Linked DNA regions of Homo sapiens. The protein of the gene in region 1 purifies or fractionates together with the protein of each later gene. This does not show direct contact. Each region holds a gene or a part of one and is shown on either strand. Other genes may lie near its edges. The genes, in order: NQO1 and NIT2.

Region 1 (3,820 bases):
AGGCTGGAGTGCAGTGCGGCGATCACGGATCACTGCAGCCTCAACCTCCTGGGTTCAAGTGATCCTTCCATCTCTCAGCCTCCTGAGTAGTTGGGACTACAGGCATACACCACCATGCCCAGCTAATTTTTGTACGTTTTGTAGAGAAGGGATTTCGCTTTTGTCATGTTGCCCAGGCTGGTCTTGAACTCCTGGGCTCAAGCAATGTTCCCGCCTTGGCCTCCCAAAGTGCTGGAATTAGAAGCGTGAGCAACCGTACCTGGTCAACAGTCTCTAAAAATTTTTTTTTATGACAAGGTGTCACTATGCTGCCCATGCTGGTCTCCATCTCCTGGCCTCAAGGGATCTTGCCGCCTCAGCCTTCCAAGTAGCTGGATTACAGGCTCCAGCCACTGTGCCCAGCCAGTTTAACTCATTCTTTTTTATATATTTTTTACTTTTATCTTAATTTATTTATTTTTCTGAGACAGGGTCTTACTCTGTCACCCAGGCTGGAGTGCAGTGGCAAGATCTCAGCTCACTGCAACCTCTGCTTCCTGGGTTCAAGCGATTCTCCTGCCTCAGGCTCCCGAATAGCTGGGATTACAGGTGCCCGCTACCACACCCAGCTAATTTTTGTATTTTTGTAGAGACAGGGTTTCACCATGTTGGCCAGGATGGTCTTGATCTCTTGACCTCGTGACCTGCCCGCCTCAGCCTCCCAAAGTGCTGGGATTACAGGCTCGAACCACCGTGCCTGGCCAACTCATTCTTGTTAACAGCAAAATATCCTGTAGTGTGGATGTACCCATAATTTCTTAAAATGTTCCCCATAGACAATCAGGTTATATCTAATTTTTGCCAGTGAAAAGCATGGTGTAATACACATCTTTGCTCTTATAGCCTGAAGCTTTTAGTCTGTAGAACAGATTCCCCCAAATTGGAGAGCGAGATAAAAGATTTATGTGTCTTTAAAGTTTCAAGAGATTCTGCCTCATTACTTTCCCTAAAGGTTGAGGCAGTTCTTATCCCCACCAGTAAGGTGCCAATTTTTCTGTTGGTACAATCTTAATAACCCTGGGTGTTATTTGTTTTACATTTTGTGGGTAAATGTAAACTCACGGTAAATGTAAACACAGTACCCATGTAAACGAATGGGTAAATGTCTCATTTTAATTTTGCTTTTCCTGACAGGTCACGCAGAGCATCTTTTTTTTTTTTTGAGACGGAGTCTCCCATTGTCACCCAGGCTGGAGTGCAATGGTGCAATCTTGGCTCACTGCAACCTCCCCCTCCCGAGTTCAAGTGATTCTCCTGCCTCAGCCTCCCAAGTAGCTGGGATTACAGGTGCCTGCCACCACACCCAGCTAATTTTTGTATTTTTAGTAGAGACAGGGTTTCACCATGTTGGCCAGGCTGGTCTCAAACTCCTGACCTCAGGTGATCTGCCCACCTTGGCCTCCCAAAGTGCTGGGATTACAGTTATGAGCCACAGAGCCCAGTTGTCAACATTATTTATTAAATCAGCCACTGATTTAAATGCTTCCTTTAATCTTCAGTGCTTTTAAGGGGAAAATACATTTCTGGCTACAGGAGATGGAATGCAATAACCTAATGTCAAACAAAGCCGCCCCCTCCTTTACAGACTGCAACTCCCCTGTAGCTGAAGGTTTGCTGGTTGGTAATGGGTTTTCCGTGTGTGCTTTGTGTGTGTCTCTGTAGGCAGAAGAGCACTGATCGTACTGGCTCACTCAGAGAGGACGTCCTTCAACTATGCCATGAAGGAGGCTGCTGCAGCGGCTTTGAAGAAGAAAGGATGGGAGGTGGTGGAGTCGGACCTCTATGCCATGAACTTCAATCCCATCATTTCCAGAAAGGACATCACAGGTAGGAGGAGTTCCTCCTCCCCTCTTTAATTAGTTCTTTGCGGATCTCCTTGCCTGTGGGTCCTCTGGCCCAGCTTTGGCCCCTCTGGCCCCAGCCTCTCTTTTTCTTCTCTGCAGGTAAACTGAAGGACCCTGCGAACTTTCAGTATCCTGCCGAGTCTGTTCTGGCTTATAAAGAAGGCCATCTGAGCCCAGATATTGTGGCTGAACAAAAGAAGCTGGAAGCCGCAGACCTTGTGATATTCCAGGTATGGGGGGACATCGGAAGGGGTGTCAGGGACATTTGCGTGCTTATTGTCCTAGACATGTACCTAATTAGCTATGAGATCTTAAACAGTTACCCACTTTACTGCATTCTCTGCAAATAAGGGTGATTACTTTAAAGGTGCAGTATTACATGGATTTCACAGATATTGGGAATCTGGCTGTATTACTGTTGCATGTGTAAATGCAACTGCAAGGCCAGGCACGGTGGCTCACGCCTGTAATCCCAGCACTTTGGGAGGCCAAGGCAGGTGAATCACAAGGTCAAGAGACCAAGACCATCCTGACCAACATGGTGAAACCCTGTCTTTACTAAAAGTACAAAAATTAGCTGGGCGTGGTGGCATGTGCCTGTAGTCCCAGCTACTCTGGAGGCTGAGGCAGGAGAATCACTTGAACCCGGGAGGTGGAGGTTGAAGTGAACCAAGATTGCGCCACTGCACCCCATCCTGGTGACATGGCGACAGAGCGAGATTCTGTCTCAAAAAAAAAAAAAAAAGAAAGAAAGAAATGCAGCTGCAGAGATGATGTACAGTCCTTGAGCTTGCTTTCTTCCAGGTACTTAGTCTCCCCTTCAGTTAGCGATTCCTTCAGTTAGCGATTCCTTCAGTTAGCGAATCCTGCGGTTAGCGATTCCTGTTGGACTCTCTCAAAATTTGCAGTTCTCCTCCTTTCTCCATAAGAATCCCAAATACTTTGTAGAATAATCCATGAGACATTGACTTCTCTGCCATTGTAGCCTGCCAGCTGAAGGGGGCTTTGAAACCCTGCTGAATGTGTTCCTGCAGCAAACCACGGCCTTTCTTCTTCGGGAAGCTGCCTTACCGTTTAGCAGACAATGCTGGGATTGTGCGTGCATCTCGTCAGTGATCTTTCCTATAAATGTGACTGTACTCAATGACTTTGCTTTTACAATTCCAGCCAGTCTTTTGATATTGAACATAGAATGTATATGATCCTGGAAACCACGAGGAGGGTGGTACAGGCTGTGTTTTTTTTTTCTCTCTCTCTCTCTTTTTTTTTTTTAGTTATTCAATCAGCTACAAAACATCCAATCCTTGAAGTCCTTTATTTTACCCACAGGCCTGTTGCTAAGAATCAAAGCCACATGCCACTAGCCAGTACCCCAAAGGACGGCTTTAAAAAAAAATTAAATTGGAGACAAGGTCTCACGGTCACCCAGGATGGAGTGCAGTGGCATGATCTCTGCTCACTGCTGCCTCAACCTCCTGGGCTCAAATGATCCTCCCACCTCAGTCTCCCGAATAGCTGGGACTATCAGTGCACACCACCATGCCCTGCTAATTTTTTAATTTTTTTGTACAAATAGGGTCTCACCATGTTGCCCAGGCTGGTCTCAAACTCTTGGGCTCAAGTGATCTGCCTGCCTGGACCTCCCAAAAGGCTGGGATTATAGGCATGTGCCTTTCATATCTTTAAATCATGAATCAAGGATAAGAAAACCTCCTGGTATAGTCCTTACTCTGCTTTTATTAGGATAAGAGGTCAGACAAGACTTTCTCATGGGAAGTCCCTGATGAACCTTAGTCACCCTAATTATTATTTATTATAATTTTTATTTTTTAACATTTTATTTATTTATTTATTTGTTTTTGAGATGGAGTCTCGCTCTGTTGCCCAGGCTGGAGTGCAATGGTGCAATCTCGGCTCACTGCAACCTCCGCCTCCCG
Region 2 (3,820 bases), on another chromosome or scaffold:
TGTTTCTTCTCTCAATGAAAGGCTCTATCCCTGAAGAGGATGCTGGGAAATTATATAACACCTGTGCTGTGTTTGGGCCTGATGGAACTTTACTAGCAAAGTATAGAAAGGTAAGTAGGAAGTGTGGCATAAGAATTTGTTATCTCTAAGCCAGCAACAATGTGTGGAAAAAAAATTTGCTATGAAGTTCCCTAGTCCCTCTCATTATATCACACATGTATTAGGGTTTTGACTGATTGGCACAGGTGGTTATTCTTGGCCATTTGCATTTTTATATAAGTTTTAGACTCAGCCTGTCAATTTCTGCAAAGGAACAAGCTATAGTAATTTTTTTTTTGACAGAATCTCGCTCTGTCACCCAGGCTGGAGTATAGTGGCACAATCTTGGCTCACTGCTAGCTCTGCCTCCTGGGTTCACACCATTCTCCTGCCTCAGCCTCCCGAGTAGCTGGGACTACAGGTGCCCACCACCATGCCCAGCTAATTTTTTGTATTTTTAGTAGAGACTTGGTTTCACCGTGTTAGCCAGGATGGTCTCAATCTCCTGACCTCATGATCCACCCGCCTCAGCCTCCTAAAGTGCTGGGATTACAGGCATGAGCCACCGTGCCCAGCCAACCTATAGTAATTTTTATTAGTATTTCATTGAATATATAGAGAACACTGTGGGAAGAGTTGCCATCTTTTTAGTATTAAATGCGTATACATGACCAGGTGCAGTGGCCCATGCCTGTAATCCCAGCACTTTGGGAGGTCTGAGTAAGTGGATCACCTGAGGTCAGGAGTTCAAGACCAGCCTGGCCAACATGGTGAAACCCCATCTCTACTAAAAATACAAAATTGGCTGGGTGTAGTGGTGCACACCTATATAGTCCCAGCTACTCAGGAAGCTGAGACAGGAGAATTGCTTGAACCCAGGAGGTGGACGCTGCAGTGAGCCAAGATTGCGCCACTGCACTCCAACCTGGGCAAGACAGAGCAAGACTCCATCTCAAAAAAAAAAATCATATACATTTAGTATCATTAAGTCTTCTTGATGAGTTGACCCTTTTATCATTATGAAATATCTCTTTTTTTTCTTGTAATACCTCTTGTCTTGAATTCTGCTTTATCTCTGCTATCACTATAGCCACTCCAGCCTTCTTATGCCTAATGTTTGCTGGTACGTGGTTTTTCCAGTTCTTTGTTCTCAAGCTATATGTGTTTTTATATTTTAAGTGGATCTCTTTTGTCAACAGCATATAATTGTATCTTAATTTTTTCTTTATTCTGACAATCTGTGTCTTTTAATTGAAGTGGTTAGTCCATTTATATTTAATGCACTTATTGATATGATTGAATTTAGGGATAGAGACATTTTACTTTTTTTTCCCTTTGTTCATCTTTTCTGTATTATTTTGGATTAATTGAATATTTTTTAGAGTTCTGTTTTAATTTATCTATTGGCTTTTTAGTTATACATCTTAGCTTTTTTTTTTTTTCCAGTTGTTGCCCTGGGAATTATCATATGCATCCTTAACTTTTCACAGGCTACTTAAGAGTTCATATTATATCATTTCATGTGAAATTTAAGAACCTTATAATGATATAGGTCCATTTTTCTACCCCACTGCCCCTGCCCTCATTCTTTATGCTATAGTTGTCATTTGTATTCCATGTATATATGTTATAAATCCCACAAAACAGGAATACTTGATTTAAATAGTCATATGTATTTTAAGGAAATTAAGAAGAAAAAAATCTTTATGTTTACCCAAATATTTATCATTTCTGGTGTTTTTCTTTCCTTCCTGAAGATCCTCCTTCTATCTGGTATATCCTTCAGACCAAAGGATCTCATTTAGAATTTTTGTTCTGAGGATCTGTTAGCTAGGAATTCTGTTAGTTTTTCTTTATGAATATATCTTTACATTGTTTTCATTCTTGAAAGATATTTTTGCTGGAATAGAATTTTGGATTGATAGTTTTCCTTTTTTTCCACTAGTAGTTGTTATCTAGCCTTTTTTTTTTTCTTCCCTGATGAGAAGTGAGTAGTAATTTGTATTGTTCCCTCGGATATAATTTGTTGTTTTTTCTCTCCTTCTTTCAAGTGTTTTCATAATCTTTAGTTCTTAGTATTTTGACTCTGATATGCCTAGATGTGGTTTCCTTTGTCTTTGCCTTCCTTGGTACTTCTTGAAACTGTAAATTTAAATCTTTCACTGTGTTTGGGAAGTTTTTTGACACTATTTTGTTAAATATTTTTCTGTTCCTTTTTCTTATGGAGCTCCAGTATATGTATATTATATTTTTAAATATTTTTCCAAGGTCACCAGGCTCTGTTTTTCTGTTTTTGTCTTTCCAATACTTTTTCCTTCTCTTCTACAGATTAGATAATTTCTGTTGATCTTTCAGACTTATTCACTGTTTCTTCTGTCTTCTTCAATTTCCCGTAAGCCAACCCAGTGAAATTTTAAAAAATTGAGATATTAAAATTTTCAGTTCTGAAATACCCCTTTGCTTCTTTTTTATAGTTTTTATTACTCTATGATATTTTCTATTTGTTCATTAAAAGCATATTTTTCTTTACAGTGTTGAGCTTAGTTAGTTTCTATAGCTGCTTTAAAGTCTGATAATTATCACATCTGTGTGCCACAGAATGAGACTATTAGGCCTTTAAAAGGCCCCTGATGTAAATAAACTCATATCCAAGCAAACAACAAGAAAAAAATTATAACATCTGGGTCATGGCAGGATCTGTGTTCATTTGATTGCCTTTTCTTTGCAGTTTGGATCACACTTCTGTTTCTTTGAGTATCTACTAATTTAAGATTGTACAGTGGATTATATATTGTAGAGATTCAAGATGCTATTACAGTCTTCCAAAAAGTGTTGAATATTTTGTTTTAACTGATGGTTAACTTGGCCGCACCCAAACACCAAACTCTTATCTTCTTTGAAACGTGGGCAGCAACTTTAGCTGCTCTGTTCTATCTGGTTGTTCTGCCCCACTTCTATTTAACTCAGTGATCAGCCAGAGATTTAGAAAGATTTTATATGCAGAATTTAGGGCTCTCCCTCTTTGCTTTCTCCATTTCAGGATTTCCCCCCTTGGTTTCCAGCTCTGGTTCTTCAAGCCAGTGTGATTATGGGTCATTTTCACCACTACTTATCACAGCAACTGGGACCTTGCTTCAGGGTAGCAGCTGTAAATAGCACCAGGAAGTTCACCCAGGGCTGTTCCCTGCTTCCACATGTCTGTGTTCTTCTCTTCAGATTTTGTCTGCTTTGTTTTGGTCATTCTTCAGTGCTTTAAGTAGTTGTGCCTTTTATTTTGTCCAGAGTTCATAGTTAACCACAAGAAAACTGGTCTGATAGGAGCTACTGTGTACCTGCTGGAAGAACAGCCAGCATTGGACTATTAACCCAACTCTTTGAAGTATATCTTTTTAGTATTAAGTTTTCCAGTCCATGAATGTGGTATATATCCTGACATTTATTACGCTTTCTTTACTTTCTCTCAATTTCTTTTTATAGTTTTTTGGGTATAATTTTGTTTAACATTTGTGAGATTTATTCCTCATTGGTGTTTTTAGATGCTCTTTCATTTTCTGTTTTTGTTTTTGTTTTTTTGAGATGGAGTCTTGCTCTGTCGCTTAGGCTGGAGTGCAGTGGTGTGATCTTGGCTCACTGCAACCTCCACCTCCCTGGTTCAAGCTGTTCTCTTCTTTCAGCTTCCCAAGTGGCTGGGATTATAGGCATGCACCACCATGTCTGGCAAATTTTTGTATTTTTAGTAGAGACGGGGTTTCACCATGTTGGCCAGGCTGGTCTTGAACTC

What was found.
Region 2: the proteins of NQO1 (region 1) and NIT2 fractionate together in Homo sapiens (co-fractionation; one large-scale study listed by BioGRID). This does not show direct contact.

Annotation. Positions count from the first base shown.
Region 1 is NC_000016.10:69,716,416-69,720,235, reverse strand, and holds part of NQO1 (NAD(P)H dehydrogenase [quinone] 1), read left to right. Parts: intron 1-1,701; coding exon 1,702-1,866; intron 1,867-1,982; coding exon 1,983-2,113; intron 2,114-3,820. UniProt on the Homo sapiens protein: Flavin-containing quinone reductase that catalyzes two-electron reduction of quinones to hydroquinones using either NADH or NADPH as electron donors.
Region 2 is NC_000003.12:100,341,052-100,344,871, forward strand, and holds part of NIT2 (omega-amidase NIT2), read left to right. Parts: intron 1-21; coding exon 22-110; intron 111-3,820. UniProt on the Homo sapiens protein: Has omega-amidase activity. The role of omega-amidase is to remove potentially toxic intermediates by converting 2-oxoglutaramate and 2-oxosuccinamate to biologically useful 2-oxoglutarate and oxaloacetate, respectively.